4 separate regions of the Homo sapiens genome follow, and all the other regions are linked to region 3. The links come from fine-mapping of genetic effects on gene expression. A gene starts in region 3. Each other region holds a variant in brackets. All regions are shown on one strand. Distances are between the middles of the regions.

The links.
Region 1: its variant is fine-mapped to the expression of LGALS3 in whole blood (INTERVAL, PIP 0.99).
Region 2: its variant is fine-mapped to the expression of LGALS3 in tibial nerve (GTEx, PIP 0.99).
Region 4: its variant is fine-mapped to the expression of LGALS3 in tibial nerve (GTEx, PIP 0.99).

What each region holds. Positions count from the first base shown.
Region 1 is chr14:55,445,540-55,453,644 of GRCh38, reverse strand. No RefSeq gene overlaps it. Among named protein-coding and RNA genes, the nearest start is that of TBPL2, 9.0 kb to the right of the region's middle. RefSeq lists enhancers at 4,761-5,960, 5,725-6,225, 7,300-7,389. The variant G/C (reference allele first, on the strand shown) is at 3,861.
Region 2 is chr14:55,046,311-55,054,415 of GRCh38, reverse strand. SOCS4 (suppressor of cytokine signaling 4) reads right to left here. Exons shown (of 3, transcript NM_199421.2): 3 at 4,927-8,105. It overlaps MAPK1IP1L (mitogen-activated protein kinase 1 interacting protein 1 like), which reads right to left and starts at 2,769. Exons shown (of 4, transcript NM_144578.4): 1 at 2,613-2,769. RefSeq lists silencers at 2,199-2,358, 2,709-2,948 and enhancers at 2,979-3,178, 2,718-3,407. The variant G/A (reference allele first, on the strand shown) is at 4,729.
Region 3 is chr14:55,125,063-55,133,167 of GRCh38, reverse strand. LGALS3 (galectin 3) reads right to left here and starts at 3,916. Exons shown (of 6, transcript NM_002306.4): 1 at 3,868-3,916. It overlaps LOC124903319, which reads right to left. Exons shown (of 3, transcript XM_047432036.1): 3 at 7,701-8,105. The coding sequence ends at 8,064. RefSeq lists an enhancer at 3,081-3,270 and a silencer at 3,621-4,220.
Region 4 is chr14:54,770,542-54,778,646 of GRCh38, reverse strand. It overlaps SAMD4A (sterile alpha motif domain containing 4A), which reads right to left. Exons shown (of 13, transcript NM_015589.6): 10 at 3,512-3,713; 11 at 2,107-2,233. Among named protein-coding and RNA genes, the nearest start is that of SAMD4A-AS1, 87 kb to the right of the region's middle. RefSeq lists enhancers at 4,321-4,370, 4,244-5,172, 4,456-5,655. The variant C/T (reference allele first, on the strand shown) is at 3,680.

The sequences.
Region 1 (8,105 bases), 320 kb before region 3:
AGGACGCTTTTTTTTCTTTTCTTGAGACAGAGTCCCCCTCCGTCATCCAGGCTGGAATGCAGTGGTGCAATCTCGGCTCACTGCAGCCTCCACCTCCTGGGTTCAAGTGATTCTCCAGCCTCGGCCTCCTGAGTAGCTGGGATTATGGGTGCCCACCACCACACCCAGTTAATTTTGCATTTTTAGTAGAGATAGAGTTTCACCATCTTGGCCAGGCTAGTCTCGAATTCCTGACCTCAGGTGATCCTCCCACCTCAGCTTCCCAAAGTGCTGGGATTACAGGCATGAGCCGCCGCACCTGGCCCCATTTTATTCGCTCCTTCCAATACAAGCAAACCTAGGGATACAACCAGAAAACTGCCACGTGAGGCTAAAATATGCTCTTGCTCCTTCAGAAAACAGCACAAGTTCATCAGCCCAGAAAGTTCTCAAACATTCTCAGGACAAGGGACACTGAGTCCAAAGCCTATACTTTTAGCCACAGCACTATTCTGCCTCCCAGTATACAGTCCTAGTATGGTACTTTTCAGCAGAAATCCCATATGTCTTCCAATATTCTTTAAGACAGTACTCTTGAGGCTAAAATATTCTAAACAAAGAGCTGAGTTTCCAACAAAAAGTGCTTTAGAAAACTGAGTTGCACAGAGAATGGGGTGCATAGAAATCTGGGGCATGCACAGCCAAATAACTTGGGTCTGTAAACATTTATCAGATTATTTTAAAGTGATTTTGCAACATTTCCTCATCAAATGCCTTACAGTTCTGGAAAAGGGCAGATATAAGAATTCCTTTATCACTTGGTCAGGTTTACAGATGGAGACACCAAAGCAATGAGAGTTTTAAGAGGCGCTCAGAAAGTCAGTAATCTCAGCACTTTAGGAGGCTGAGGTGGGAGATCATTGAGCCCAGAGTTTGAAACCAACCTGGGCAGCAAAATGAGACTCTATCTCTACAAAAAATTAAAAAATTAAAAATTAAAAAGTCAATAGCAGGGCTAAAGAGAAATCTAGATTCCTGATCTTGAAGCACATGGTTAAATCGAAAAATCATATCTCCATGGGCATCAAGGAGATAGAAATGGGGATGGAAAAAAGGCACTGTCCTTTCTCTTAAAAGTAATATGCACTTTTATAAAATACTCTTTTTGTAAGAAGTAAAATATAAATGTTCATTGTAGAAAATTTGGACAATACCAAAAGTTCAAAGAAGAAATGAAACCCACCAATAAGCTCGGTACCCAGAAATATCCCCTGTGAATGTTGGTATATTTCCATCCAGGAGTTTATGTGCTGTTATCATTTAGAGACAGACAGCCCTTCCATTCTACTCCATTTTCTGAGAGCAGGAATCTGAAAGGTAGATCTCAATCAATAATTGATGCCCCCACTGCATGCCCAGCACTATGCCAGGCACCATGGGGTCAGAAGGAAGACTGCACTCCTCACTCTAAGAGGCTACAGTCAGTTAAAGAGATAATACACAGACCCAGAATCAGGGAGCTGGCAAGAGCATCATATGAGCAAACTGGCTGCAGGAATTCAGAAAAGGAAAGCTGGCTGGGAGAGGCTTAATGGAGGAAATGATCTGGAGCGGAGGTATGAACAACGTTTAGACTCAGGATTGCAGAAAGAAGGAGAAATGCACTCTGGGGTTGAGCAGGTGGAAGATGGGACAAAAACAGCATGGACCAAGGACAGTTGGCTTGGTTCCTAAGGATATTGGCCTGGGTTTAGAGATTAGAGGGTGTGAACAGAGGCCCTAACATCACAGGTTTTACAGGCAGTGCTACCCACAGTTACTGTACCAAAGTCATTTCTTTTCCAAGACCAATGCAGAGATCAAGGCTATATACGAGGATCCATTTTATTCACTCTTTCCAATTCAACCAAACCTAGGCATGCAACCAGAAAACTTCCACGTGAGGCTAAAACATGCTCTTGTTCCTTCAGAAAACAGCACAAGTTCATCAGCCTGGAAAGTTCTCAAACATTCTCAAAGCTGATGTCCAGGAAGTGCTAGGTCAGGGCATGTGCTATAGGAGGGACCACAGGGGAAATGATCGTACAAAATCATGGCACAAAGTCAAAACCCAGCATGCACCAGCCAAATCCTGCACATATGCCAAAAACTGAATTCTGCCACCTTAGTAACACTGAAAAAAAATATATCCTGGGTAAGAGGTGGTGTGATATCTGAGAAAATCCCAAGGTTGTATCTTGGCAGCTCTATTCCCGGTGTGACCTTGTGCAGTGACTTAATTGCTTTGCCCTTCAATTTCCTCATCTGTAAAATGAGGATAATAGCACCTGCCTCATACTTCTGATGTAAAGATTAAATGAAGTAATGTATACAAAGCACCTTACACCACATCTGGCCATTGAGTAAGCCCTGGGTAAACACTGGTTCCTCTTCTTTTCTTCCCACTAGTCTAATATTAGAAAGCCAGATCAAAAGGGTCAGTGTGATTTGGGGAAACTAAAAAACAGAATATGATGCTAATAAGGCTTGAAGCCTCAGACCACATTCAAGGTCTCCAGGGCATTGGTAATGTCCAACTTCTTTACATGGCTCTAAGGTTCACATCTGTCTGAGATGTCACAGCTTGATCAAGGCCTCCTCTATACCATATTCAGCATAAAGTGTTTTGAGACAGGATCTATAATAGGATGCTGGAGTGAGGCCAGCATAGTTGCCCTGAAACCCTGCCTCCTGCCCCCAGCTCAGGTACCAAAGGAAGGCGACATGGGGTATTGAAACAATTTCCAAAGGTTTAGCTCACATAAGCGGAATAGAGACAGAGAAGGGAAAGTCCTCAACCTAGAACACAGATTAATTACCAGGGAGCCAGAAAAAGCTAATAATCCTAGTTGACAGGCAGCCAAATGACTTGGGGTAGCTCATTTAGAGTGTGGGTGTTATGCAGCCCAGAAGACAAACACGTGTAAACAACAGCAGGTAAAACATGAACCAACCTACTTAGCAAGTTAGATCAAGAATCTATTGATTGCCAAGTCTCTTTGAGTCCTGCAACACACTTCCTCTCTGTCCCTTCTGTTAAAGCAAACTAAATATGGCCCAAGAAGGACCCCATACTTCTATATTTCAGTCCCTGTGGACGAACTGTAACCTAGCTTAATAGGCAGACAAGATTGAGAACCTAATTTAGTAGTATGTGCCTGTAACAATAGCTGAGTCTTGGCCAATCCCAGCAGCCATGCTTCAACCACTCATAGACTGCTGAGTGTTCAAACTGTGTTCAAAGAAGGCAAATGCCAACCTGTAACCAATCCAACTGTTTCTGTACCTCACTTCAGATTTCTGCATGTCACTTCCCTTTTTTGTGTCTATAAATTTGTTCTGACCACCAGACATCCCTGGAGTCTCTCTGAATCTGCTGATTCTGGGGGCTGCCCAATTCACGAATCGTTCATTGCTCAATTAAACTCCTTGAAATTCAATTCAGCTGAAGTTTTTCTTTTAACACTTCATTCCACTGTCCCTGCCCTAGTTCAGGCCCATATTACCTCCTGTTAGCTCAGGGACACCTTCATTTTCTGAATACACAACTCAACAAGTTCTTCACTGATCATCAAATAAAATCTACATTTCCTAACCTGACATTCAAAACCCTCCATAATATGATCCACATCTTAAACAACACATTCCATTTCAGGATCCTTATGCTTCAGACAAACCAAAGCCAACAAACCTAAGCCTTTGTATTTTTCCACCTCAGTGTCTTTGCTTGAGCTGTTGTTTCACAGCCATTCTCACGTATTCTTTGTGTTAGTTACCTAGGGCTGCTGTAACAAATTACCACATCCCGGGTGGCTTAAAACAACAGAAATGTATTCTTACAA[G/C]TCCAAGATCCAGATGTCAGCAGGGCTAGTTCCATCTGGCAGCTCTGAGGGGCAATCCGCTCCATACCTCTCTCTTAGCTGCTGCTGGCTGCTGGCAGCCCTTGTCATTCCTTGGCTTGGGGCTGCCAATCTCTGCCTGTCTTCACATGTGTGGCCTTCTTCTCTCTGTGTCTCAGTGTCTCAAATCTCCCTCTGCCTTTGTCATATAAGGACACCTGTCATTGGATTTAGGGCCCATCCTAAATCCTGGGTGGTCTTATCTTGAGAGCCTTAATTACATCTACAAAGTCCCTTTTCTAAGGTCACAACCACAGGTTCCGAGTGGATATGTCTTTCGGGAGGCCACAATTTAACCCGTATACCCTTTAAGACCTTGGTCTCTTGCTGCCTCCTTTATGAAATATGCCTTGATGTCTAGCCCCAGGAAGGAATTTCTCCCTCCTATGAACTGCCAAGAAACTCAACTGAATTTGACTTTGTGATATTGTGTTTGTATGAACAGCTTATCTTTGAGTGAGTTGCCTAACTTCTGTAGGCCTCAATTCCTCATCTTTGAAACAGAGATGATTATTACATTTATTTTTAGCATTATTTTGGGTTTTGGTTTTTTTTGTTTTTGTTTTTTGAGATGGGGTCTCTCTCTCTGTTGCCCAGGCTGGGAGTGCAGTGGTGTGATCTCAGCTCACTGCAACCTCCACCTCCTGAGTACAGGCAATTCTCCTGCCTCAGCCTCCCAAGTAGCTGGGATTACAGGCATGTACTACCATGCCAGGCTAATTTTTGTATTTTTAGTAGACACAGGGTTTCACTATGTTGGCCAAGCTGGTCTTGAACTCCTGACCTCAGGTGATCGGCCCACCTCGGCCTCTCAATGTTCTGGGATTACAGGCGTGAGCCACTGTGCCCAGCCTATAGCATTATTTTGATAAAAAGAAGTTTTAACGGACTTAGAACACTAGCCAGACATAGCAAATCATCCATATGTGCTATTATTATCCTTATCTTTATTATCATATATTGTCCCTACTATATTGTAAGTTCCTTAAAGATAGTCATCTTTGCAGCCTTCATGGATTCTAAAAAGTATCTCGCACAGAATCATGGACGAGCGAACATATCAGGGAGAAGGAGGGAATGACAGCTAAGTCATCTTGAGATAGTCAATACAGGGACATGTTTGGAAATGTCGTGAAGAGTGACTCCTCTATGCAACATTCAACCAGCAGGAAAGTACTCAGGTCTTCCCCGAAGTGAAAAGTCTTGGTCAAAACTCCCTGCCAACAGTTTTCCCTTTGATTTACAAGCAGGACAACTTGGAGAGTTGCCAGTCTGGTGTTTCCAAGTACAGCATATCCAAAGAATTCCTTTCATAAACAGCATCATTTGCTGATTTGTCATCATGGTAATTATATTTTATTATTCCCACTGTACACTGTACCTCTTAGCACTGATGTGGTTCTGAAATAGAAGTGAAAAAAAGGGGATAGGGGAGGGGCTGACTCCCAGGCTTAAGGGAAGAGTGACTCAGTGGCCCTAGGGAGCCTCTTCTCAGGAACTGGGTAGGTGTGCTGACTCACTTCTGCCTCCGGCCTCCTCCCAAAGGTTGCTGCTTCTCCAGGACCTCACAGGAGCTGTGGAAGCCTTTAGTGGTGGCTCTGGTAATTCTCTACACACACCATAATCTTCCCCTACATAATCCCATGAGCTATTTTATAAAGCTGCCTTCTAGAAGGCCAGTGCTCTAGATACGTGGTTCAGACCGAAGTCTTCTAGAAGATTTTTAATTTTTATGGGTACCTAGTAGATGTATATAGAAGATTTTCATTGTTAGTACAAGTACAAACACATACAAAAATCCATTCCTAGTCAGGTGCACACAAAGTGGAGTTCAGGCCAGGCATGGCACTTTGGGAGGCCGAGGCAGGCGGATCACCTGAGTTCAGGCGTTCGAGACCAGCCTGACCAAAGTGGTGAAACCCCGTCTCTACTAAAAATACAAACAAATTAGCTGGGTGTGGTGGTGTGCACCTATAATCCCAGCTACTCAGGAGGCTGAGGCAGGAGAATTGCTTGAACCCAGCAGGCAAAGGTTGCAGTGAGCCAAGATCGTGCCACTCCACTCCAGCCTGGGCGACAGAGTGAGGCCCTGTCTCAAAAAAAAAAAAAAAAAAGTGGAGTTCAGAGCAGACAGAAGCTGAAATCTTCATCCATATTTTCCCAAGCAAATACGGTAAAACCTAATCTCCCTGTTTTGCTGTGCGTGGCAGGAGACAGGTAGCTACTGTCTGGGATCAGACATCCCTGATGTGCTCAGCGTGGAAAATGGTAAAGCAACTCTCTCCTGCCCAGAATCAGTGCTGATTGATTGGTTCTGTTTCCATGAAACAACTGCCAAAACGATGCTTATAAATAACACTTCCCAGTTATAATATGCTTTCTAAAAGAATGCATTATTTATTGTAGAAACGCTGTGATGGAATATGTTCACACAGAAAGAAAATAATAGGGATCAGTCAAGGGAGAAAAAGAAACTTGTGAAATTTTAATTCTTGTCTTTAATATTACGTGAAATTAAGCCATTTTCCTGAGAAACTTTAAACACAGCAAGTCTTCTTTATGGCCAGTGTATAGCACTGCCTGAGAAGGAAAGCTGCACCATTATGATTCAAGATTTTCAGTGGACTGGGGTTGGTGAGCAAAGACTATGGAGATCAAGGTTATCTGTGTTGTGCTTCAGCAGCTCCTGACTAAGCCATTACACAGGCTCCTTCCCAGATGCTGAAGTTCATGCTCCACCTCCACCAAAAAGGGGGAGGAAGAATTACTGTGGGTTTTTATTTCAAACGATTACTGAAAGGACAAGAATTCATTGAATTTTGATCTAGAAAAGGCCTCTGTGCAGTGCTCAAATCCACCTCCCTATTCTTGTGTATAAAATCACTGTCTGGAAACTGACAGCTCCATGTAGAGATCAATCACACCCAATGTCCATGGCTTCTAAAAGAAAGAGAAGGCTGCATTTAGCAAATATTGCCACCATTAAAAAAAAGTTCTCTCCCAACATGGCTTCTAGAAACCTAATCTCATTTATGCAAATTCTTTTCCGTTTTTTCCTGGGCAGCGAAATTGCCCCTCACATTTAACAACCATCAAGATAGTGTGAATGTGGATTACTCTACAAGCACTTTCCGTTTAGCTCCTATAAATAGGACCTCCTTGTATAAAATAGCACATATATTCACATTGACTGATACAGTAACTAATCTTATTTATTTTTGGAAGTACCCTCTGGTCTTCTGCCATGGAGAAGTAGCTACCCTTTTTTTCTTTAACATTTAGGGAATGCATGCTCCCCCCCCTTTTTTTTTTCCTCTCTCCCCTCAAAGCTGTTTGTTTTCTCCCCAAACCAGAAGGTATTCCCCTCATGGAGATGAAAGTGCGCCCCCTAGTGAACAATGTTTCTCAACATCCCTCCAACACTGAATTTCCATCTTCATTATTCTTGCCAGAGAATCCCAGGCCCCAGTGGTGACGTGACTGCATTTGAGAGGTTGAGGTTCAGTGCCCAGGGCTTAGGAGCTTTTCAAGGGACAGTAAAATTGTTTGAGAGCTAAGAAAGTCTGTTGACTCCAAACATTTTTTTCTATTCCAAAACTGAAATTAGTGAATTTGATTAAATGTCTATAAAATATCAACTAATCATAAGCAATTCAACTCTTAAATTGTTACATATAAATTATATTTAATGTAGAATGTAGGTTCATTTTTAAATTGTCTATGAAGAGGCCAGGCATTGTGGCTCACGCCTATAATCCCAGCACTTTGGGAGGCCAAGGTTGGGGGGGGATTGCTTGAGCCCAGAAGTTCAAGACTAGCCAGGGCAACATAGCAAGACCCTCAGCTCTACAAAAATTTTTGTTTTAATTTCCAGCTAATTTTTTAAAATTTTGTGTAGAGATGGGAGTTTTCACCTGTAGACAGGTGTGTGGTACACACCTGCAGTCATAACTAATACTTAGGAGGCTGAGGTGGGAGGATTACTTGAGCCTGGGAGGTTGAGGCTGCAGTGAGCCATGACCACACCACTGCACTCCAGCCTGGAGTGTCTCAAATATATATTATATGTATATATGTGTGTGTATATATATATATATATATATATATATATATATATATATTTTTTTTTTTTTTTCTGTGAGGAGGGACAGGTCCTCTTAAAATACGAGTAAAAGCCATATTTTCCAT
Region 2 (8,105 bases), 79 kb after region 3:
ATCGCAGCACTTTGGGAGGCCGAGGTGGGTGGATTACTTGAGGCCAGGAATTCAAGACCAGCCTGGCCAATGGTAAAACCCTATCTCAACTAAAAATACAGAAAATTAGCTGGGCGTGGTGGAAGGCACCTGTAATCCCAGCTACTTCGCTTCGATAGGCTGAGGCAGGAGAATCGCTGGAACCTGGGAGGCGGAGCTTACAGTAAGCGACTCCGTCTCCAAAAAAAAAAAAAAAAAAGAAAATATAAATTATAAATTAGAATACATGCTAGTTTTTAGTATTGGCTCATTTATCTGCTTATGTTCCATTTTTTACATTTGGGCAACTCAAAAACGGGGGTTTTGAAATGCTCAAAAATCTGAATCTTTTTGAGTGCCACCATGCCGCTCAAAGGAAATGCTCATTAGAGCATTCTGGATTTTGGATGCTCAACTGGTGTAATGTAAAAAAAATCCAAAATCTGAAACACTTCTGGTCCCAAGCATTTGGGATAAAGGATATGCAACCTGCAATATTTCTTGGCATTTAGTTATATACTTATTGGAACATATATGCCAAACAATGTGTTGGCCTTTAGAGAAATTATAGTATTACATGGAGATTCCTGAGATGTGCTGTCTTTTGCAGTCCATAAGGACCATAAGGAAAGAGCCGGGAGTAGAGGGCGGTGAAATGGGCCCTAGGGAAAGAAGAGCAGTTAGTGTAAAAACTGGGAGAATCTCTGGGGAGGTATAAGCAGTTCAGATGGGTTAGAATATAGCGAGAAAGGGAAGGGTTGTATTAAAGTCTTAGCAGAGTGACCTTAGACGAGGGTTTGAATTATTTCACTAAAAGTCGGCTCATCTGAATGAACCCGAACTATAAAGAACAGGCCATACTATTTGTAAAAAGCACGCAGTTTAAAAAACAAAACAAATAAAAACCAGGCCAGTAATGTTGCGAGGAACTAAATGGGACTCTGTCCAATCAAGTGCCTAAAAAAATAGTGCTTGGGTGGAAAACAAATACCAAATTCTCTTTTCTTTGTATGTGGACATCTAGCTTATAGGTAAAAAAGTAAACGTTAAAGTATGATTATCTAGCTATAACTGCAGCTCTTCACTGGTTGGTTCGGCCAGAGTTGACAAGTCCAACTCTCCAAACTTGAGGCAAAGGAAGATCGGAATCGTACCCACATCATAGATTTGCTGTAAAACTTTTAATAAACAAATCTCTTAGTCGCTGCCTGGAATATAGCAAAACCTCAACAAATATTAGCTTTTATGATGCCTACTTTTAGGTCCATAAATCTTTATCTGCCCTAGTTTGGCACAAAACTTACATGGTGGCAAAATGTGACCTGAAGCTATTTATAGTTTCTATTCGCCCCCACTTAGAATGAATGTTCACATCTATTGCTGCAAATATTAATGTTGGATTATGGGGTGCCCCACTCTGCTGGGGGTGTTATCTCTCGTCTAACATGACTTTCTAAAAAGATGAAGATAAAATCCAAGTATTTTTGAATTCAAAACACACTAGCTTCAAAAGTTTCAGTTAAGAGACTGGGGATGGATTTTACCCATTCCGCCTGGAGTGAGGAAAAGAACATTCCAATATTTGCAATTCACTCCAAGTTTCTGAAGCAAACTCGCTTTGCATTGTGGGCTCAGAGATGCCAGCATGAAAAATTTCTATTCTTCCCCCAAAGAACACCAGTGAACAAAGAACTTATGAAATGTTTCTGAAGGCTACCTTTGCCTGTAATGAGGGTTCCTTTTCGAAACAGACCTTTACAACCCCCAGGTGTGTATTTCTCTAGTAGTAAAACTAAAAAAAATTCTTGCGGTCGAGTGAGCCTGGCTTCATGCTTTAACACTGGAATCTTTACCTATTAAAAGCTGTACTCTTGCTTTTCAAGGTAAAGAGGAAAACGGTCCAGCTATGCATACGCTATCGCAGGTATGTGCTCCTCAGTCCTAAAAAAGGAGATCACTGAATTCTGCCCTTCTCGTGGTTTGCCCTGGGTATTCATCTAATGTATCCGTGAGCAATTCCTCTAGTAAGTCATAACCAGAACGTTGTCACACTGCGGATTAACAAGCGCCCGAGACTCTTGTAAGAATCTTTTCAGGCCTTTCCCTTTTTATTAAAAATTAATGAATGAGTGTAATAGGGTGGGGGTAGAGGGGAAATCGGGGCCAAGGGGCGCGAGGCCGGCAGCCGTTTAGGGACGCACGAACAAAGGGAGTCCGGGATCAACCGGAGCGAACCGGCCTCCTAGCGGGTCGCGCCCGCCGGGAAGGGGTGGGGGAGGGGCCGGCCCGCGCCCGCCCCGCCCCGCAGCCAGACCTGACGTCAGGCGCCCAGAAACCCGTCGGGCGCGACGTCAGCGGCCTCCGACACCTTCTCCCTGGGGGGCGATCCCCAGGCAGCCCGCAGCGTGGAGGAAGGCGACCGATAGAAACGCTTAGTCCTGGTGCCAGGCAGGCGACCACGGCCCGAGCACTGGACGTGACTCGATGCACCTCGGTCACCGCGCCCGCTTCCCGCTTGGCCGCGCCCGCGGGCTCCGCAACCCCAGCTCCCCGATTCCCCTTCACGACTCCCACTAGTACCGAAGCAGCCTCACCCGGCAATATCCGAGACCGCAGTAGGGTCTAGAAGCGGCGATGGGTCCGAGGGACTGGGCCCTGAAGACGCGGGCGCAGCCTGACTGACGGCAGCTAGAGCAGCGGCGGCAACAGCACCAGCAGCGCGCGGCTCCTCCTGGCGCCGGAACAGGAAGCGCCGAGCGCACCGCCTCCGCCCGTTCTCCCCCTCCCCTCAGGCCGCGCCGCGTGCGCCTCCCGCAGGCCCCTGGCGGTACTGCGGCCCGCCAGGCCTAGGGGGATGGGCTCCACCTGGCGCCGGCTCCGGGCCGCTTTCCCCTGGTGGGCGGGCTAAAAGCTCCCAGAGTTTCCGGAGTTCCGAGGACTCGGAGGAAACGCCAGTGGCTGCCGATGTTCACGGCTTCCCGGCGGAAATTGCTAACTTGTCTTGAGTTGCTTGAGGGCTGATTCTGGATTCCTTTTGCTCAGCGGTTTTTACAGCTAGGCCTCGAAGGAGGCTGGGTATGGACGCGGTCTGATTTCGGCCTGACCCGAGGACTCAGATCCTCGGGCCAAAAGTGGGGAGAGGGAAAATATTAATACAGGAAAGGGAAGACGTTTGCAAATAGCTTGACAAATTGATATTTGCTTTCTTTGTAGATTTTTCCTCATCAATGCCTCTTCTCCCATGTTCTTTTTTGTTGTTTTTGAGACAGGGCCTCTGTCACACACGCTGGAGTGCAGTGGCGCGATCTCGGCTCACTGCAACCTCTGCCTGCTGGTCTCAAGCAATCCTCCCATCTTAGCCTCCGAGTAGCTGAGACTGCAGGCATGTGCCACCACATCCGGCTTATTTTTGTGTTTTTGATAGAGATGGGGTCTCACCCTGCTAGCCTCAAGCGATCTGCCCGCTTCGGCCTCCCAAAGAGCTGGTATTACAGGTGTGAGCCACCGTGCCCAGCCGCCATCTTCATTTCTGAATAAACATTACCTCCTGTGTCAGGCACAGATGACATGACCCCAGTCAAGGAACCTACTAACTAGCAATAAAGATGTCGTGATAATTATATGGTGTGCAAAATATATACATATATGCAATATACTTTTTTTTTTTTTTTGAGACGGAGTCTTGCTCTGTCGCCAGGCTGGAGTGCAGTGGCGCGGTGCGATCTCGGCTCACTGCAACCTCCGCCTCCCGGGTTCAAGCGATTCTCCTGCCTCAGCCTCCCAAGTAGCCGGAACTACAGGCGCGCGCTACCTTGCCCAGCTAATTTTTGTATTTAGAGACGAGGTTTCACCACGTTGGCCAGGATGGTCTCGATCTCTTGATCTTGTGATCCGCCCTCCTCGGCAAAGTGCTGGGATTACAGGCGTGAGCCACTGTGCCCGGCCAATATACATTTTTTAAGATATAAAAATATCCTAAAAGTATGTGGTACACTTGCATCTTGCTTTGTGTAAGGCATTAGTGAGTGAGTGGGTGGCCATTTAACCATGAACTTGTTTAAAGGAAGACATCCCTGGATGTTTTCCACAGCACACACAATTCTCACACTGAAAAAGGGGCAACAGAGGAACTTCAAATACCTAAGCCGAGAGTCTTATTTTTGGGTAAGGGCACACAGGCCTATGGAAAATTACACGACTGGTGTGGACCTAGCCTGTTCTCACTGGTGACAGTGAATCAGCAGTGCCTTGAGCCATGCTGAAACCTGAAGCAACAAGAAATCAGTAATCTGGTCAGGTTTGATTTGAAATTTGGTATCTTGCTCATCATAGGCTTTTTTGCATCAATTCAGATATTACAATATTGTACCAAAACATTGTCTTCCTTAGTCGTATAGTCAAATATTTGTCCCTAAGTGCCTCACCATACCCTAGTCCTGGCGCTGTGTACCAGTAATGGATAGCCTCCAACTTTTCCTTGCCTGCAATCAGCCAGTAGCTGAGCACGTTGGAGGGGTCTAGATCTAGGCCATTCCTGTCCCTGTGGGCTTCTCTACAGGCAACCTTTGCTTGGGAACCAAGTCCTCATCTAGCAGTCTCAAGATGCACTGAAGTCCGAAGCTCCCCTACCCAATCCTTCCTTCTAGGTGTCAGACTTTCTGTGTGGTATGAAGAATTCCCCACCTTCTGCTCCCTTCTCTATCTTTCTAG[G/A]TGTTTCACTCCAAATAAATCTCTTGCACCTCTAATCACATTTTGGCACCTGCTTCTGGAAGTCCCAAACACAAAAAAACTAAAAGGAGTGTATTATAAATTAGAAAATATGTAAGAATATGGGTTTCTCTATCTTTTTCAGATTCTAAGTTGAATGTGTGAAGTAAAGACTATGTTTTTAAAATAAAACACAAAGCCTTTGGATTTTACATAGGAAGTTTTAATTAAGTAGAAATGAAAATTTATCCAGATCAATTTATTTGAACTTACATCCAAGAAGAAACATTCAACTTAAGGATTAGAAATAAAAGTGGCAATTGTCTACTTCTTTTGTGGTAAGGAATAGATCATACAAGCCTGACTGATGAGAGTAATAGCTTTGTGAAAACTGTATATTCGAGTACATGTGAACTCATACTTGGCTTATACAGAATTTATCCAATTCTAGCAAAGTCAGCATAATTTAAATAAACCTCCTTGAGTTTTACACCATGGCTCTCAAGTCTGAAAGCTTAGATTTGATTATAACCATGGCAAAAGTGATTATCTTTATTTTCTGAAAACGTAATCAACTTTTAAAATAAGTTAAGCAAACATCAGTTTTACACAGACCATATGAAGGGTAGGAGGAAACTGCAATTGTTCCTCTAATTGCAGAGCCTAAACCATAAATTCAAATTGTACTGCTATCTCTACTGTTAAAACAAGTCAAGAAAGTCTTTTACAGTCTAAGAGAAGTGAATGTAATTATGCAGCATCCACTACAAAGATATTTTGAAAACCTATCATCATGTTAGTACTCAATGGCTGTACAGCAATTATTTTAAAGTACGCTCCCAGGGTCACCTCTTGCTGAAGAATTAACTCCAGGAAGTCGAGTTACAAGTATCACCTACATTTTATAGGAAATAAAGGCAAAGATTTAGGACTGAGTCATCTGTTCAAAATTAGAAAGTAAATAAAAAAATAGACTTTGGTTTTATTTGAAAATCCCTTTCTATTGGGTTATATCCATTAATCTACATTTCAACTTCCAAGCCAATCTATTTTAAAAAGTTACCTCCATTTTGTGTCCAATATCTTACTGTATTAGAATAGTACAGGTAGACTCTTGCACTGCTCATTTCTAGTAGGCCATTAATAAAGAAAAGAAAAACCTTTGTGCTTTCTGTTCTTTCCTTAAATTACAAATGTAAAACTGACTTTTTTCCCCCAAAGTAGAAACAGTAGTTTGCTTGACGAAAAATCTTTTATTCACTTGGGCATTACATTACCTAACATTACACAGGCTATTTTGCTTTTAAACATTGTTTTCCTTGTGTTGTCTCCAGGAATCTCTTATAATTTTGTCTATTTTCCTGTGAAATTTGCTTTACCAAAATGAATGCGTAAGCTGTTTATTGGATTCTGACAATAGCTAAAAGCGACAAGAAATATTTTAATGAAAAGTAAGCGTGAGTTAGATCTTGGCCGGGCACAGTGGCTCATGCCTGTAATCCCAGCACTTTGGGAGGCTGAGGCGGGTGGTCACCTGAGGTCAGGAGTTCGAGACCAGCCTGGCCAATGTAGTGAAACACCATCGCTACTAAAAATACAAAAATTAGCTGGGCGTGGTGGCACACGCCTGTCATCTCAGCTACTTGGGAGCTGAGGTAGGAGAATTGCTGGAACCTGGAAGGCAGAGGTTGCAGTGAACCGAGATTGCGCCATTGCACTCCAGCCTGGGCTGACAACAGCGAGACTCTGTCTCAAAAAAAAAGAGATCTCAAGGTTTTTGTTTCATAGGAAGGAAGCTCTCTATTGCGTGGATCTATAAAATGATCCAAACTTCAGAGACAGGAAGCTGATAACTGGATTTATCTTCTTAATGGCTTTGGCTCATGAATAAATGATAATGGTTTATGTGTTTTTCTTATAAAAAGAAATGGAATTTGTATACCGATAGGAGTCCTACTTGCCACATTTGTTCTACTTATTAAGGGATTTCTAATTACTGAGACATTCTTTATATTATTTATAATAAGAAGTCAAAACTTTAACTGAAAGCCATTCTTTGACCACAGTTGGCCATTAGCTGAAATTCAGGAAATAGCACAGGTTTGATCACCAAATCAATAAATCTAGCCACAGGCTGACTAAAAGCTTCCTTTAATCTTCTTCCTATTAGGTCTTCCTTTAAATTAAACCATTCCCTTCATGAATTATTTAAGTGAATGGCATGGTTATAGAAAGATCACATATAACTCTATACAAAAATGCTAAAGGAACCTTAAAAAGTCCATTCAGCATACTTCAGGAATTATACTATGAATCAAGATGCTGTAGGCTTAGAAAAAAATGGGAGTGGGAGTATGTCCTGTAAAGCTTCAGAGAAAAATAGAAAAGTCAAGTTTATTTCCTGATTAGCCCAGGATGATTCCCAAAGCGCAGTTAAGTGTCTGGTCCAGACTAGCTATTAGCGATTAAGTAGTTTCTTTTCACTGTCAAGGCTTTTCCCTGAGGTAATGCCTAAATTCCTAATTTTAATATTTGATCTTATTTCTCTTAGCTCCATCCTCTCTCACCAATAAGCTCTCCACATTTCCACCATGCTAAATGCTTTCTCAACTCTGGAATTTACACTGTTCAAATCTTCCCTTTGTTCAACAGTTATAAAATTTTAGACAAATTTATACATTCCCACATTGTTCCTCTCAAAATTTACTCATTTATATAGTGCAATCAATATATTGTTTACATTTTATATAGGTTAGTTTCTGAATACTGTATGTTCTTCCAAATGTATCCTTACAAAGACACAGAGGAAGGGGGTAACCTTTCTGAATTCCAATTCCTTAATGTTTTAAAAAAAATTATTACTCTTTTCTTTTCCCTTAAACAATTCCCTTCTCAAGTCTTTATGTATCTACTTTCCAAACTTCTTTTCACTGTAGCAAATACCAAAGGAAAAATAAAAATCATTTCAGAGTCAATGAATCTCCTCCCTGCTCTCATTTATTAGATCAACTACTTCAAGGCTACATATGTGGCAGTACTTTTTAAGTGTTAACAGCTGTTAATACCTTGAAGTTGAAAAAATAAAAAAGCCAGAGAAAACATATCACAAGCAATCAGTTTGAATTATATGAAAAGGTACTTAGATCTTGACTTTCATATAAATACTAATTTTAACACTATAAAAGACAACATAACTATATATCATTTTTCTTTATAAAACTACCCCTTAACAGAATATTTGTAAGCTAGTCATCCCTTAGGTTTTTCTGTACTGATAAAAAGTTATTTTTAAAAGAAAAATATTTAAAATAATTGTTTCACAGAAACAGAAAATCTTATCAAATTCTGATAAAAAACTATAATCATGGGTACTCTTACCA
Region 3 (8,105 bases):
GTCCTTTGAAAGTGTTAATTACTTCATTGTGAAATTAATTCTCTGACTTACTCATCTGTAACTACATAACATACTGAAATTGTAAACAAATTTTTTAAAAAGGATTGTGTTTTGGTCAGAAAACTAACTGGGTGATTCATTCAAGCACAAAATAATATTGAATATTGAATACAAGAATGCCATTTTGTATAGTCATTTGCTAATTATAATGACATTTTAACCAATAAAGTGTACTTTTCCAAAAATTGGGTATGCCCCGTCAACTTCCAACCATGAGATTTCTTTTTTGAAAAGCATTATAGGCCGAGTGCAGTGGCTCATGCCTGTAATCCCAGCACTTTGGGAGGCGAAGGCAGGAGGATCATGAGGTTAGGGTTTTGAGACCAGCCTGGCCAACACAGTGAAACCCCATCTCTACTAAAAATACAAAGAATTAGCCAGGTGTGGTGGTGGGCGCCTGTAATCCCAGCTACTCAGGAGGCTGAGGCAGGAGAATCGCTTGAACCCGGGAGGCAGAGGTTGCAGTGAGCCAAGATGGCACCACTGCACTCCAGCCTGGGAGACTGCGAGGCTCCATCTCAAGAAAAAGAAAAGAAAAGCATTATAACTGATGCTCTTTTGAAATCAAGATTATTAACCTCAAAACTTTCAGGAAAACAAAAAAGACATCTATTCAGATAAGTATCATCCTTACTTGCCTGAAATTTTTTTCTTTTTTCTTTTCAGATGAGTAGTTTACAGAGAGAGACATACAATCAAATGTCACAAATCTTCCCACTCTACAGACACTATAGATATGTGAACCCCACCCTGGTGTTTCCAGGATCAGAGAATTTTGAACAGTCAGAGGGGAAAAAAAAAAAACTTCAAAAAATAAACTAAAAGTAGAGAAATACTAGCTGGGTCTCCACATTTGTAAACACCTACAGTAAGCAGTTCAGTGTAGCTTCAGAATAAGGAATTTAAACATGAGTTAGAATACAGACCATTTTAATCGGCTGTTAATTGGTAGCTTTTCCCTTTAACAAAGAGTAGCTATCCGCTGCACTATGCTATTCTAGGCCCACCCAGCAATCAGTCCAGTTGTCTGGGTTCCCAGGAACACTTCTGAAATGTCTGCTCATAAAGGTCCCTGACCTGTGCGCAACCGTCACAGAAGAAGACTACTTCCTGAGCCCCTAGGCACTGCCCTACACTGCTCCTCAAGTAACACAAGAGGCAGTCTACTTCCTGTCCTTGCTGAAACACAGAGCAGGACTTGAGGAAAGCCCATTTGCCAAAGACAAATTCAGTGATGCTAAGTTGGAATAAGGGGAACTGGTCCTTTCCTAGGATTTCTTTCTCATCATAGCTCCCTGGCATCAAGGAAGGTAGAGTTACTTTCTGCTTCTCATGACTGATCTTCCCCCCTACGGAAAAGCTGAACAGTTCAAAAGAGAACACATGACACTTGGTCAATAGCGAACTGGAAGTATACAGCAAGCACAGCCTAGACTGGTTCTTAAGTTACCCACTCAGAATTTAATGAGAAGATCCAGTTCAGGCACCAGACACAAGGAGCTACCCTTGAGTGGGAGCCTGTGTCCCAAACGATCACAGGAAAGAAGAGCTATGTTTGAGATCAGTTACCACAAGTATCAAGTACATAAGTTTACAAGCCACTTGGCATTTAAGGTCAACACGAGATTCTGAAGGCATACTACATGAACAAAGGTCTTGGCTGCAGTTAAGGTTTAGAGTCTGGCTAATGAGGGTTCTATGTAAAAAGGTACCTAAATTATACATGAGACCAGCATTAGCCTCTTGACCTCACTAAGTGAAAAGTCTTTGTAAAGCACCTATGCATATTTGTAGTACAGCGAACTATCATAGTTTAAAGACCGCTTAACAGAGCGAGACACCTATTCTACTTGGACACAGCTAGTTTTCGGGGTCAATCCATCAGGCGGTACTCGTCCTCTTCTGCTTCTTACGTAACTTAGTGAGGCATCCTCCTAGCACTTCTAAGTGCTAAATATTCAAGGACCATCATCAAACTTCTCCCCAGAATCTGGACTAAGTGCTGATTTTAAACATCACCTCTAAATATTATGAATTTAGGAAGTTGCTTAAGTCCCCCAAAGATCAAGGATGGGGTATGATCATCTTTAGAATGAGAGACCCTACCCTAAGGATTGAGAGTCAATGTCTAAAAGGGAGACTATTGTTGTAGAAAAGTAAATGATCATTATTCAACTTTACCTTTTATGGAAACACACAATTTCCTAGTATGAAATGTTTATAAACTTGAGGTAGGCCAGGCGCAGTGGCCCACGCCTATAATCCCAGCACTTTAGGAGGCCGAGGCAGGCGGGTCACCTGAGGTCGGGGGTTCGAGACCAGCCTGACCAACATGGAGGGACCCCCCCCCCCCCACCACCACCACCACGAAAAATACAAAATTAGCCGGGCATGGTGGCGCATGCCTGTAATCCCAGCTACTCGGGAGGCTGAGGCAGGAGAATCGCTTGAACCCGGTAGGCAGAGGTTGCGGTGAGCCGAGATAGTGCCGTTGCACTCCAGCCTGGGCAACAAGAGCGAAACTGCGTCTCAAAAAAAAAAAAAACCTTAGGTAAACAAATCAGAACTTTGGAAGCTGACGAAAGCTTTTTCTTCTCAGGCCCTGTGCCCAAGTAGTTAATTGTATCAGTCTCATTTTCTTCAGAATTAACTGAGCCTTCTCCCATTTCTTCCCCAGAATCCTAGAGACAGCCTGAGTCACTGAGGTCCAGGTGTCCTCATTGCGCAGCAACCCAATTCCCAGAGTCACTTTACAAACATTCCGCAGTCTCTGGAACCCGCATGGCGAACTTGAAGGGTAAGGCTGAAACCTAAGTCCCAGCCTCCACCATGCGTCCCCGACTCCCTGGACCTGAACGCCTACTGCTCAGAGGGCAATCGTTTTAGTGTTTCTATTTGAGCACCCGATAATTCAGAATAAACTCTCAAACATGTTGTGAAAGCCCCCCGGTAGGGCTCTGCACGCTAGGACCAACATTTTGCCACACCCACCATTTCCTGGGCACAGACAGTCTGGGCAGGGAGGGGCATTTGATTCGGAAAAGCTTAGAGTTTGCAGTCTTTGCAAAGCCGGGTCATGCCCACTCAGGCCATGGGGCAAGCACCATTTTCTGTGGGATCAGCAACCAGACAGCGGCTGCAGCCCGGCCGCAGCTGGTCCCGGTGGAAGAACTCATTCGCGCTCCACAGCGAGATCTCCTCCAAGTCCAGCCTCAGCTGATGCTCAAAAGGGGCCGGGCCAGCCAAGCTGTGGGTCCCGGGAGGCGCCCTATGCAGTCCTGGGAAGTCCCTTCGCTCCCCCGCGGCCGTGATCTGGGGAAGGGTGACGGGGCTCCAACCCCAATTAGAGAAACTGGAGCGGCCGTCTGGTTTGCTGAGCGAGCCCCTCCGCCTCCCCTCGCAGCGGGACCTGGTGGGACTGGGGTGACCAGACTGCGGCTCGTCACCGGATGGGGCTTACTCTGGGGCCGCAGAGCGCAGGCGGCGGAGGTGCGACGGCGGCGAAGCCCACGAGGCTCCGCAGAAGGTGGCCCGTGCCGCCCCGGGGACGTGTGTGGGTCTCGTAAGGTGCTGCCAACCTTCCCCGAACGCCAGCGCCCTCGATAATCAAAGGCGACTGCCCCGGGCCCAGATCGCTGCCCGCCGCCCCGCTCCTGGAGGGCAGAGCACAGGCTGTGGGGCTCTCCGCGCGCGCCCCGGCCCGGTCCCGGGGAGCCGAACCCTCTCCGGACCGCGCCCCAAGCAGCGCCCGGGCGCCCTCTCCCCTGCCCGGCCGGAGCCGCGTCCCCCGCGCCCCGCGCAGCTCACCGCTCGTTGGCTGGCTCCGGACGGCTGCTGGCGAGGAGGTGCTGCGGGCGCCGGCGGGGCGGTGGCTCCGAGCCTCAAATACTCCCAGCCCCGCCCGGCCCGCCTCTCCCGAGGCGGGGCGGCGCCCCTGCCCAGCCAGTCCTCTCCCCGGACCAGGCTGGGCGAGCCCCGCGCCGGCCAGACACCCCGAGCCGCCGCCGCAGGGGCGACCAGGAAGCTCCCGACGGGGAGAGCGCGGGCACTGAGGGGCGCGACCTCCGCTGCCACCGTTAGGTTCCGTGGCGCTCCCGGGACCTGGGCTGCGGCCGCGTCTGTCCCCCGCCCTCTCCAGAATCACCTGAGTGAAGAATTCGCTGAGAGGAATTCAATTAATAGGTTGCTTTATTTGTAGAATACAAAACCAAAAATCTTTTCAATGTCTATTCCCTAGGGAACTGACTACAAATTGACTACTTATTCTAGATCAATAGGCCTAGTCTCAAAGCAATTCCCTTATAAAGCAATTAATCAGACAACTCTTTAACACATTTTACACAGGAAATTCACATTATATATATATATACCCTCCTTTTAACTTCACCTTATCTTTTTGTTGGAAGAAAGAGATAAGTATTATTATCTCATTTTTACTGTCAGGGTGCTATAGTCTGAATGTTTATATCCCGCCAAAGTTCATATGTTGAAATCCTAACCCTCACGGTGATGTATTAGGAAGTGGAGGCCTTGGGAAGTGATTAGGTCATAGGGGCAGGGTCCTTATGAATGAGATTGGTGCCCTAATAAAAGAGGCCGGAGAGAGACCCCTTGCCACTTCCACCTTGTGAAGACACAGCCAGAAGGCTCCCTCTGTGAACCAGAAAGCAGGCCCTCACCAGACATCAAATCTGCTGGCCTGGATCTTGGATTTCCCGACCTTCAGAACTGTGGGAAATAAATGTATATTGCCTATAAGCTACCCAGTTTATGATATTTTGTTACAGAAGCCCAAACAGACTAAAAGAGAAAATGATTTACTTATCCAAGCTCACTCATGTCTAGGAACAAAATCCAGAAATCCTGGCTCTTACACTTTACCTGGAAAAGCACCAGGCCAAAGAATCCTTGCAGGTTGGAACAAGGATCTCTGAGGAAAAAAAAAAAAATTAAGGGGGGTAGGGGAAGAATCTTTGCAGGGACTGGCTTATGTAAACTATGGAGAAAACCAGGTATCATCTGGTTCCTAAATAATTCCTGTAGCCCTTATAGTAACCAATTAATAACATAAAGATAAATTATTTCCTGCAGTTTTTCAACTTAGGGAAATGTTCCTGTGAAGGACTCACTTGATGGAATTGAGAAGCTGTCTTGGCATTCTCTAGGATAAACTTGAAAGTGTCTTAGTGGTTGGCACGGTTCCTGCAACATCGTCCCCTCTAGGCTTGCACATAGAAGTCACAGTGTGGCTGGGGATTATTTATGCAAGTTTGAACTCTTATCTGAAGAGGTAGCCTGGCAACCAATTTATTTGAATGGATCACCCATAGTAAATGACTAACCTCTGGGTAGTAAAAAGGTATCACCCAAAGGAATGCCCTTGGTCTCCAGGGAAAATGCTATAAATCTTAAGACTTTGAGTCATGAGGCCTCATGGCCAGGAGTGGTACCCTTAGAGGGTTAGCCATTGGTAATAAGAAAAGTAGATAGCCAAATGAATTGCTGTGGAGGCAAGGGATGAATCACACTCTTGCCTTTTCTTCTGGTCATTTCAGAGATAGACAAAGTTCATGCCCTGGCTACTTAGGGGGCTTGCTTACACCTGATTGTATGATCAGACATGCTTTTGGCTTCCCTTCCTTACTTGTACATCCCCATGAATACTTTGGTGCCAACTTCATGCCCCATAAAGCTAACAAAAGGATCCTGCTATGATCAGGGTGTGCCTGGGAATTTATAATTTGTACACATGCAATAAACGGCTCTTTATTACCCAATCCAAAGTCACATCCCTTTTCTAAGATAAGCGTAAAAAGGAACCCAATAAAATCAATTAAGATATCATTGAGTAACTTCTATGTACAGCTCACTGTGTTATTTGAAATAGGGACAAGGCAAGTGTTAGCCCTCAAACAAAAAGGCTGTCTGGTTTCTACGGATGCAGAGATTGTAAGCCGCTGATAAAAGCAAGGATTCTAAGAGAGGCATCTCCACAGGAGGGAAAGGAGGAAACTTGGGAAAGCAGGTGGCTGTCCAGAAGGTCAGGAGGGAAGCTGCGTGAGAACTTCAGTTAGAGCCAGAAGAGAGTAGGAGATGAAGATGAGAACAAAAAGGGAAAGTCTTTAAGGATAAGCAGAAAAGAGAAAGAAAGACAGTAATTGGAGAAGAAAGCAGAGCCGATTATTTATTTATTTATTTTATTTTTTTGAGACGGAGTTTTGCTCGGCTCACCGCAACCTCCACTCCCAGGTTCAAGTGATTCTCCTCCTGCCTCAGCCTCCCCAGTAGCTGGGATTACAGGCATGCACCACCACCCTGGCCAATTTTTAGTAGAGATGGGGTTTCTCCACGTTGGTCAGGCTAGTCTCAAACTCCCTACCTCAGGTGATCTGCCCACCTCAGCCTCCCAAAGTGCTGGGATTACAGGCGTGAGCCACTGCGCCCGGCAGCAAAGCCAGTTTTTTAAAGTCACCTTTTAAATAGGAAAATAGAACCAGAGAGAAAGGAAAAAGAGAGGAGAATAGAAGAATTATGAAAATATAAAAAGTGAGTGAACCTGGAACAAGCCAGAAAAGAGGAGAGAAATTTCCCAGAAATTAGCACTACAGTGGGCCAGATAGGGAAAGAATGTCTCACAAAAGCTGAAGTTCCTATGAAATATAAACAAAAATCTTGGTATTAAGTCGTGTAGACAGCAGAATACAGGAACAGCCAGAAAAGAGCAAAGCGGCTGCTTTCCAGTTTTCACATTTGGACCCTGGGCAGCCCAGGCAAGTTTGGCAATTCTGTGTCTACATGGTGTTAACACATCTGGGTGACAAGTGAAGAGTTGAGTCAGGCCTCAGGGCACTTGGTCTTTCTGGTGCCAACAACTGGAATCTGGGTGGCTGGCAGACTTAGGGACTGAAAGAGAGGCTGAGTGTTCTGGGGAACCATTTATGCCTTGAAGACAAAGTAATTTCCAGTTTCAGAACGAAATGACTGTGGCTGTCTGCTGTTTCTAGTCCCAGTTATCTATATGTACTTACTCATATCCAAGGCCTTTAGTGGGGGCCTAATATATGCCTCAACTATTTTGCAAAATCCACCCCTTCTAGCTTGCTGAATGAACAGGCTCACCAAAACCTGGTCAACAAATGAAATAGGGTTGGTGGCAGTAATGTGCCCAATGATGGTTTACAAGGTCTTACCACCTGGGTTGCAACTAGAGCCCCCTGGGACAGAGTGAGAGCCAGAACCTGCTTAGAAGGGAGCTAGCCCCTCCTGCCTTGGATGGGCAGGCCAACAGCATCAGGGAGAAGAGGTGTCCCAGGTGCCACCGCAGGTGCAAAACCCCTTCTCCAGCCCAACCTCAGCCCTGGCCACCTCAGCCTAACCTTCCTTGTTTGTCCTTCAAGCCTAACCCAGGCCTGTCTTCAGCACTAGCCATCACCAAACCCACATTCCCACCAGTCACTTCTGTCTATAGACAGGAAGTGGCTGCTGCCACTACTACTGCCCTTATTGCAGCCACACCCAGGGCTACGCTCTTAACCACGCTACAGCATTAACCTGCCTCTTGAGGAAGTATAAAACCAGGGAAAGGGATAGAGAGTGTGCCAGCTTGCTAAGGCTGCCATAACAAAGCACCAGGAACTGAGTAACTTAAATAACAGAAATTTATTTTCTCCCAATTCTGGAGGCCAGAAGTCCAAGATCAGATGTTGGAAGGGTGGGTTTCTTCTGAGGCCTCTCTCCTTGGCTTTTACGTCTCTCTATATCTTCACATGGTCTTTCTTATATGCCTGTCTGTGTCCTAATCTCCTCTTGTTAGAAGGACACATTCGTATTAGATTAAGACCTCATTTTAACTTAATTGCCCCCTTAAAGGCCCTATCTCCAAAAACAGTCACATTCTGACGTATCCGGGGCTCGGATGGTACTGACATAAATGTTTTTGCAAAGAGAGAGGGACACAATTCATCCCATATCAGAGAAGGGCAGGGGAGGAGCTGGCTGTCAGTTCAGCAAGTGTGGTCAGCAGAGATTTCTCCAAGGAGGTGGTA
Region 4 (8,105 bases), 350 kb after region 3:
TGTAATACTTGAGAGATTTTAAAAAAAACACTCAAAGCGTTCCAGAGTTTTAAGTCCAGTGTGCGAAGCATATTATTTAGAGACTTGCAGGTAACTACAGACTGCTAAAAGGGGTTGTGCCTGTGGGCTAGGAAGGGGAGGGGAGAGAGACAGTCACTTTTTGCTCACAGCACTTCTGTATTATTTGATTCTTTAACCACAGGAACAAGAGGGTTTGCATGAAGAGTGAAAATGATATTAGGTTCATAGTTGCCCTGAGCACAAGCCAGCCACTTGGCATTGCTGTGAGATAGTGGAGGGGAAACAAAGGTATAGGTGGAAGATTCTATCAACAAACCCGAAGCGCTCCGGGACAACCCAGCTTTTAGAAAGGGGACTGTCTGGACCTAGTCTTCCCAGTTAAGATGGAGAAAGCTCAGGGAAGATTCAGTATGAACAAAGAGGAAGGCTGAGAACTGGCAAAAGAGTGGCAGGAAGGGAAAAAATCAAGAAGGCCTTGAGAAGGTATACAGAATTGAAGACAGTGGTCACTCTGCTGGTGAGACTGAGGCCAGGGTGAAAGACCCATTCAAGGTGACAGATCTCCTTGTGCGCAGGACCTCTTCAAATCTTGTCCAGATTCTTTTTTATTGGGAATGGATTATACATAATTCTGCGTGAAAACAGAGGATGGGATGAAAGGACCCTGGGATAAAGCCTTCAGAACCCCCAAATTTTATCATGTTTCTTCCCAGGAAGAAAAATAGCTAAGCATATAGAAATATGTGTAATTATATTGTTATATTTTGGTGCATAAATATAGAGAAAAGGAGCTTTAAAACAAAAGTGAGCAGAGTTTTGGAAGTCAAGAAGCAATGTGAGCAGGCCTCTGCACTGGGTAGCTGTCGCTCCCCTCCCTGACATGCCGTTCCCAGCAGTGTGTCCTCCAGCGTCCTCCTCCTCCCTGACCTCCCAATTCCAGCCTACCCCCCCACCCCATCATCCTGCACCCTCCTGCCTGACTTCTACTCGGAATCCCCCATGTGGAGGAATCCCCCCAGGGAGAGTGGCCAGAGTCCAAGCTCCTCAGCTTTGGATTCAAAGTCCCCCACCATCGGCCACGACCTTTACAGCTCCCTGGGTCCACTTTCTGCTACCTCAGCCAGACCCTTTGGCCCAGCCACGGCTTCCGGGCCATGCTGTGGTATTCTGGACCTTTGCAGTCTTGCTCCTGGGTTCCTTCTGCCTGTAACTCTGCCTTCCCTCTCTCCACCCTCTGCTGTGCCCTGAAGCTCAGCTCCAACTCCAGGAAGCTTCCTTGCCTATTCCAGGCCACAGTAACACTTCTCTTCTTTAAACTCCTACAGATAGGACTTACTGGACAGAGCGTTTCTACTGTCCAGGGCATTTTCCTACAGGTACAACACATCTCCAGTTTGCCTGCCTTGGGGCAGTGGGGGTGGGGGGGGGTCCATCCAGATAGGTGCAGTGTAATTGCCTGTGTGGCTTGTTATTACTCATGGAGTCTACAAAGTCTACAAGATCACTGCCTGCATAGAGAAAGGGTTCAAGTATTCATTAGCTGTGCATAATTCCAACCACTCTGTTTTAGGAAGCATAGTGAAAGCTGAAATTGATCTGAAGTGTGCTAAGTTGCTCTTTAACCAAGTAAAGGAAAGATGGCTGGTACAACAGTCATCACTTTGCAAGAAAAGCCCAAACCAGGGGGAAGGTCTCAGCATCAACAGTTTTCTCTTTCTCTGTCTCACTCTCACTTTCTCTTTCCACACACACACACACACACACACACACTACACATGGAGCCCTCCCACCTCCCCACCACCAAAGCCCTCTTGTGCTATCTCTGGTTTAATCAATCTAGAAATATGACTAGTATCAAAAATATCCCCATCCGATTGCAACCAACTCTGGGGCTCCACATGCTGGCTCTCAGCCAAGCCGCCGCTATTCATGCTGGCAAGGCACAGTTTAAAAAAGGAAAGGCTTCTATAAGCTCCAAAGAATGCACGGTGACAGTCGAGGCTAAGCACTTTCTGGCTGGGTTTGCTAGGGCATCTATTTTGGCCTCCCCTCTGTGTCAAGGGGACATGAAGCGCCGGGCCCTACCTGGCTGCTGGAACATCAGCATGTTCTGTGGGGAAGTGTGCACGGGCAGCGAGCGGGTCCTCTGGACTGAGCTGTGGGTGCGGCTTGGCATGCTATTGCTGCCCCCGGGGTTGGCAAACCACAGGTTCTGGTGAGAAAAGCAAAAGGGGAACTTGTTAGTTCAGCCCCACTGGGGTGGAGAGCAGAGCCGCCAGCAAGAATTTGGGAGGCAAAGATCCCAGGAGAACTCTAACTTCTAGAAAAGGGGCTTGCAGGCCAGTGCTAGCATCTGCTTATTTATAGAGAGAGGGTTTAGATTCCATTCACTGTAATTTCTCTTCACCTCCTCAGTGGTGGCCTTGCTGTAAGCCTCAGCTTCATCTGGACACCTCTTTCCCTATCTGCAGAACTCTTTTTATCGCATTTGTTGCTTTTGCTTTTTCCCTGCCACTTTTCTAGGAAATGGGGGAGTTCTATAAATGTATGCAACGAAGAGCACAAACTATTTCAGGGCTCTGATTTTTTTTTTTTTTTTTTTTTTTTTTTAAGATTCTTACAATGTACTCCAAAGCGAGGGGGAGAGAAAAGAAACTCTCAGCTGGCAATGAGCTGGCACAACTCAGCCTGTGTGTCCCAGCAGTGACGTCTTCTTGAACTGATCTGGGGGCTGGGGACAATGGTCAGAAGATGGGGCTTTCTGGTACCCTGGGTAGTGAATCCTGCCCGTCTTGCCTGAAGCCCTTTTCCTGTTTTTAAGCTGATCTGTCATCCCTTAGTTTCTCCTGAGACCCCAGAACCTCAGACCTACTTGTGTCCCTCTGATCCTAATCCCTACCCACAGAGCTTCGAGAAGCTCTGGGCACACAGGCGGAAGGCACTGGGCAGGGGTGGGGCCTGGGGCTAGAGGGGTATGAGCGACGGGCCAGAGAAGTCAGCTCTAAACTGCACAGCAAGAACCTCTGGGCAGGCTGAGAATGTGTTAACTCTCCCCCTGGCACACTCTCTCAGACTTTGTCCTGTGGATGCTCCACCAGAGCTGGGACTGAGACAAAGGAGCTTTTTGCCATGGATAAAAAGGGCAAGAAACTTCTCTAAATGCCAGGCTCTCCTGGAACCCAGATTTGGGTGGCAGAAGGTCAAGCATGGGGCAAAGAAGAAATAGGTCTTGCATTTCTTTCTAAAGGTCCTCTTGTGCAGGGTCCCCAAGGTTAAAGTGGTCCTCTGGGCATCCTAAACACAGCTATGGGGTTGCTCTGTCTGCTAGAGAACAACGCGAACAATGCTGTTACCTCTGAGGAATGGTGGCAACTGCCCCCAGCATAGTCCCCTTTGGCCTCTCTCCCCACCCTGGGGTCACCTGGGGGGACATCTGCAGCCTTGGGCCTTGAGCTTGGCCATCCTCCTCCTTCCTTGGGGCAGAACAAACCTGTCTTCCTTGTTTCATGATGGTGGGGGTAGCTGTGGTGTTGCGCTGGTTGGAGCTGACGAATCCACTGGTGCCCAAGAGGCCCAGGCGGGCGGAAGGGACGTTCCGAGAGGGGATCTGGTACTGGCGCGGGTTCCGTCTGCCCATGCCACCGCCCACAGAGCCAGC[C/T]GTCGGGAGGGAGTTGGATTGCCCAAAGCCTCGACTGTGAGAGCCAAGAGAGAAGGAAGAGAATATCAGTCGTTATTCAGCCCTTTTTAAGCCACAGGCTTCCCAAGGGATGTCGCCTTGGAGGTCTCCTCATTTTTTTTTTTTTTTTTTTTTTGAGTCAGGGTCTCACTCTGTTACCCAGGTTGGAGTGCAGTAGTGAGATCTAGGCTCACTGCAGCCTTGACCTCCTGGGCTCAGGTGATCCTCCTATCTCAGCCTCTGGAGTAGCTGGGACTACAGGCATGTGCCACCATGCCCAGCTAACTTTTTTTTTTTGGTAGAGATGGAGTCTCACTATGTCGCCCAGGCTGGTCTCAACTTTTCAGGCTCAAGCGATCTTCCCAACTCAGCCTCTTGAGTAGTTGGGACTACAGATTTTTATATTTTTGGTGGAGACAGGGTCTACCATGTTGCCCAGGCTGGTCTGGAACTCCTGAGCTCAAGTGATCCTCCTGCCTCGGCCTCTCAAAGTGCTGGGATTACAGGCGTGAGCCACTGCACCCCGCCTCTGCTCACATTTTGACAGTTATGAAGCCTACAGGGAGCTGTGTGCCAGCAAATAACTATAATTAAAACAGCAGCTAACATCTGAGAGGCGGTATCACATGGAACTTCCTGGGACTTCGACATTATTTTTCGATCCTTGCAACAACCCTATGAAGTAGGTGCTCTCTCCTTTGTAGCTGGAGAAGTAAAACAGCGCGTAATCCTTGTGCACAGGTCACACAGCCAGCAGGGGGCAGCGCTGGCACGCAGGCTCAGCAGGTTCACCAGCACTCTGCCTGCCGCCTTGCGCCTCCCTACCGCATCTTCTCCAACCCATGCTGCTGCAGATGAGGACACAGGTCTTGAACACTCACATGCTTTTGAGAGGCCACATAGCAAGAAAACAGCAGAGTCAGGGTCACAACTGGTCTGACTCCTGTCCCAGGGCTCCCTTCTTTAATCCTATCATTGTTTCTGCTCAGCCTGTCTGTGTGGCGGACTTGGAGAAGCCTGTGAGGCCCACCAGGATGTAAGCTCCATGTCTGTCCTCATCCATCCTGCATGTCCGGTGCCTGAATCAGTTTCTGCACAGTGAATGCAGTTGAATGAATGAACCAATGAGTCTCTGCCATCATGACGCATCCTCAAATGGGAGAGCTGATGCCACCTGTGGGGCGAGGGATATAAGGTCGGAGATGATGTTTGCAAGTGTTCTGGACCTAGGACACAGACTGCCTTCACTTCACAGGCCCTCCCTGCAAAGTCGGCTGCATAAGGGCCAGGGCAGGTCCATGCTTCTCCTGGGTCCGGGCAGGGAGGCTGCCAGAGCCCTTAGCATCACGTGCAGATGCCGGCGCTGCCGTTGGGTTGGGTGACCTCAGCACTGAAGAACGCATCCTCTCTGACACGCCTCAGGTCCGGGAGGTTATACAGCAGCCGGCAGGGTTTCAGGAACCAGCACATTCTTTCCAAGAAGAGTCAGCTGTAGTCATTCACGGATGTTGAAGTCAAAATGTTTTACCTCCAGTGGCCACAAGATGGAAGAGATCTGCTTTTCCAGCGACACAGGGGAGGTTTGTACCAAGCCTGTGGGGAGACTCCGGGAAGCAGGGCTGACGTAGTTTAACCAGTTGAGGGTGATAGGGGCCTGCAGAACAGTCATTTCCTGAGAAAGAGAGCTGTGCCTGTATGTAGGGGGAGGGGCATCTGAGCCAGCAGTGCAGATCTCAGAAAATGTTTCTCTTCTCCCCAGAATTCTTAAATTTCCTAAGGGGAGAAGTGGCAGGAAGGAGAATTCTGGGCTTGTGCCTTTCTACTTCCAGGCTTTGGTGGCCAAGGAAGGAGTTCTAGATTCTGGTCAGAAGCTCATCTGAATGTGGTGAGGAGGACACTCACAGGTTCTTGGTATCTTTGTCTTGGCCTTTCTTCCTTTTTTCTCCCATTTTCCCTTTTAAAAATTTCGTTTTCATTTTTACGAAGGCTTCAGATTTTTTGGTTTGAAGGAAGAACTCAGGGCCAGGAGGGGTAGAATAAGTTTCACATGATGAGACCTCCTTTGGAGGAAGGACAATCTGACTACGTGAGGTAGAGACAAGGGCCGAGTGTTTTTTTTTTTTGTTTGTTTGTTTTTAATGACGAAAACTAGTCCTTTGAGTTCTGAAGTCGGAATTTTGGCCACCTGGTAGATGATTCAGTATTCTGCTATGATTTTTCCTTATTTAGCGTGGATAGCGTTTTCTCACTTTCCTTTTTGGTTGGATTTTTAAAAAGTTATTTCATATGCAAAATACAGAGTCAATGAGTGATGCTAAAATGATTTGTGTTTCCAGGAAGGCAAGACTGAATTCTTAAGCAATATAATGTGGGAAGAGGACTCTGTTATGGGATACTTATAGTCACTGGAGAAAGGAGGGATCCAGGGACTCTTAGGACTCAGCTGTATAGGGGAGGGGAGTAGGACGTGATGAGGGGAGAATTTGGCTAGGCCATCTTTCTCTCTCCTGATGGGACCCTTCGAGGGTTATTACAAAGCCAGCTTTGCAGAGGGTTGCCACTGCTGGCAACCAGAGTGAATGCTTGGGTTACTTAAGATCGCTAGGCTTAATGAAATCATCAATGCTTTCTGGGGAGAGAACAAAGTGACAAAAGCAAGTTTTCCTTTCTCATTCTCTTGCCTTACCTTTCTAAATCTGATTTCATTACACTGAAATGTTGAAATGCATGAAAAGTCTTTGATAAAGTAACATTAATAAGAACCAATTAATTTGGGATTTGTGATAATTCAAGCAGGGGTTGGGTTGCAGTTACCTTTGTATTATTGGAGAAACAGGTCTTCAAAGCAAATTAATAGCACAAAAAGATCCCAGAGGAAATACTTATGAGTATAAAACATTTTCCAGCCTTATAGTAACATCCAGTTGAACATCCACAAGCGATTCATTCTTATCTAATCAATTAAAAGGGGTCCATTAGGACTCCAACCTGGCAAACCTTGGGTTAGCCCAATCCAAGTGTTACTAACAAACACCCTGGAGAGGTCAAGGTTCATGTCCCCTGCTCCACCTCCAGAAGGCTCTCGGATGTGGACCAATGACAACACAGGGCTGACAGAGGCCAGGGTGGGACTTTGGGAGGAGCAGCAAAGAGCCGCCCCATCTTCATCTCCAACCTCCGAATGCCTTCTTCCTCTTGGAACTTGTCTCCCAAGGGCCTGGTGTTGCAAGAGGAGTCTGGAACCTTTTCTATTCACCTGGGAAAAGTATTGCTGCTCTCAGAGAAAAGCCACTTGGGATGGGGGTAGGCCCCAGGGCAGGAGGCCAAGGAAGCAGACCTTGCCTTTCATCTGGGCCATCGGGAATCCTCAGGGCAAAGAGGTAGTCTAGTCCAACCCACAAGGGTTGGCAACCCCAGAGGGCTTGGGGCCAGGGAACTGGTCCTGAAGAGTGTCGCTTTGCCTGAACAATCTTTTCTGCTCATCATCCTGAGACCATGAGAGTTGCCTGGCTTCCATAGGGTTAAAAGCATGGAGCTGGAGCTGGTGCCAGCCTGCCTGGTTCAAATCCCCAATGCTGCTGCCTATGAACTTGTCTGTAAATGGGGTTAACAACAGCAGCTCTACCTCACATGGTTGTCATGAGGATTAAATGTATTAATATTCTTAAAGTGCTTGGATACCACTTGGCATATGTAAGTGCTAAATAAATGTTTGTTTAATAAATAACCGTTATATATGCTGGAATGTGATCACACTTCAGTGTTAAAATTAATCTTTCATGAAGTCTTTTCACAAACTTCAACTGGCCTTATCTCCCTTAAATCCAAAATAGTGATGTTTTAAGGCACGCTTACGCAAATAAATGCCCAAAATTTTAACACCACGGGCAGAGAGCTTCTATACATGCACCGAGAAATGAAATGAATTCAGACCCTTTCAGGTGCAAGTGAAGAAATTATCTGCTCATGTTTTAAAAGTGTAAAATAGAATGTTAATTTTTCAGGATGTTTACATTCTCATTCCCTTATGTCCCAACAATTCCCTATCATTGTTTAAGGCTTAACCCTTCCTCTACCCTTAATTTCTCCCACAAATTGTCACTGCAGTTCATCTTTAATATGTAATTGGATTCCTCAATTTAAAACTATATTAAGGTAATGGGTTCTAAAGTACAACCAGGCTTATTTTTAACTGCGTGCAAGAAGCTGAAGTACTATGGAAAAATCAAGAATTGTACTGCTCCACTATGAGACTGCAGACCAAAATAGACTAGCACTGGGCTCTTCACCCTGCCACCAACTATAATTAGCTTGTCTACAGCACGAAGGGGGAAAAAAATCACACTACCACTTAAGGTGCTGATTGATAGAACAACCCATTTTTATCCTTTCAGATCCCCCTTTTGTG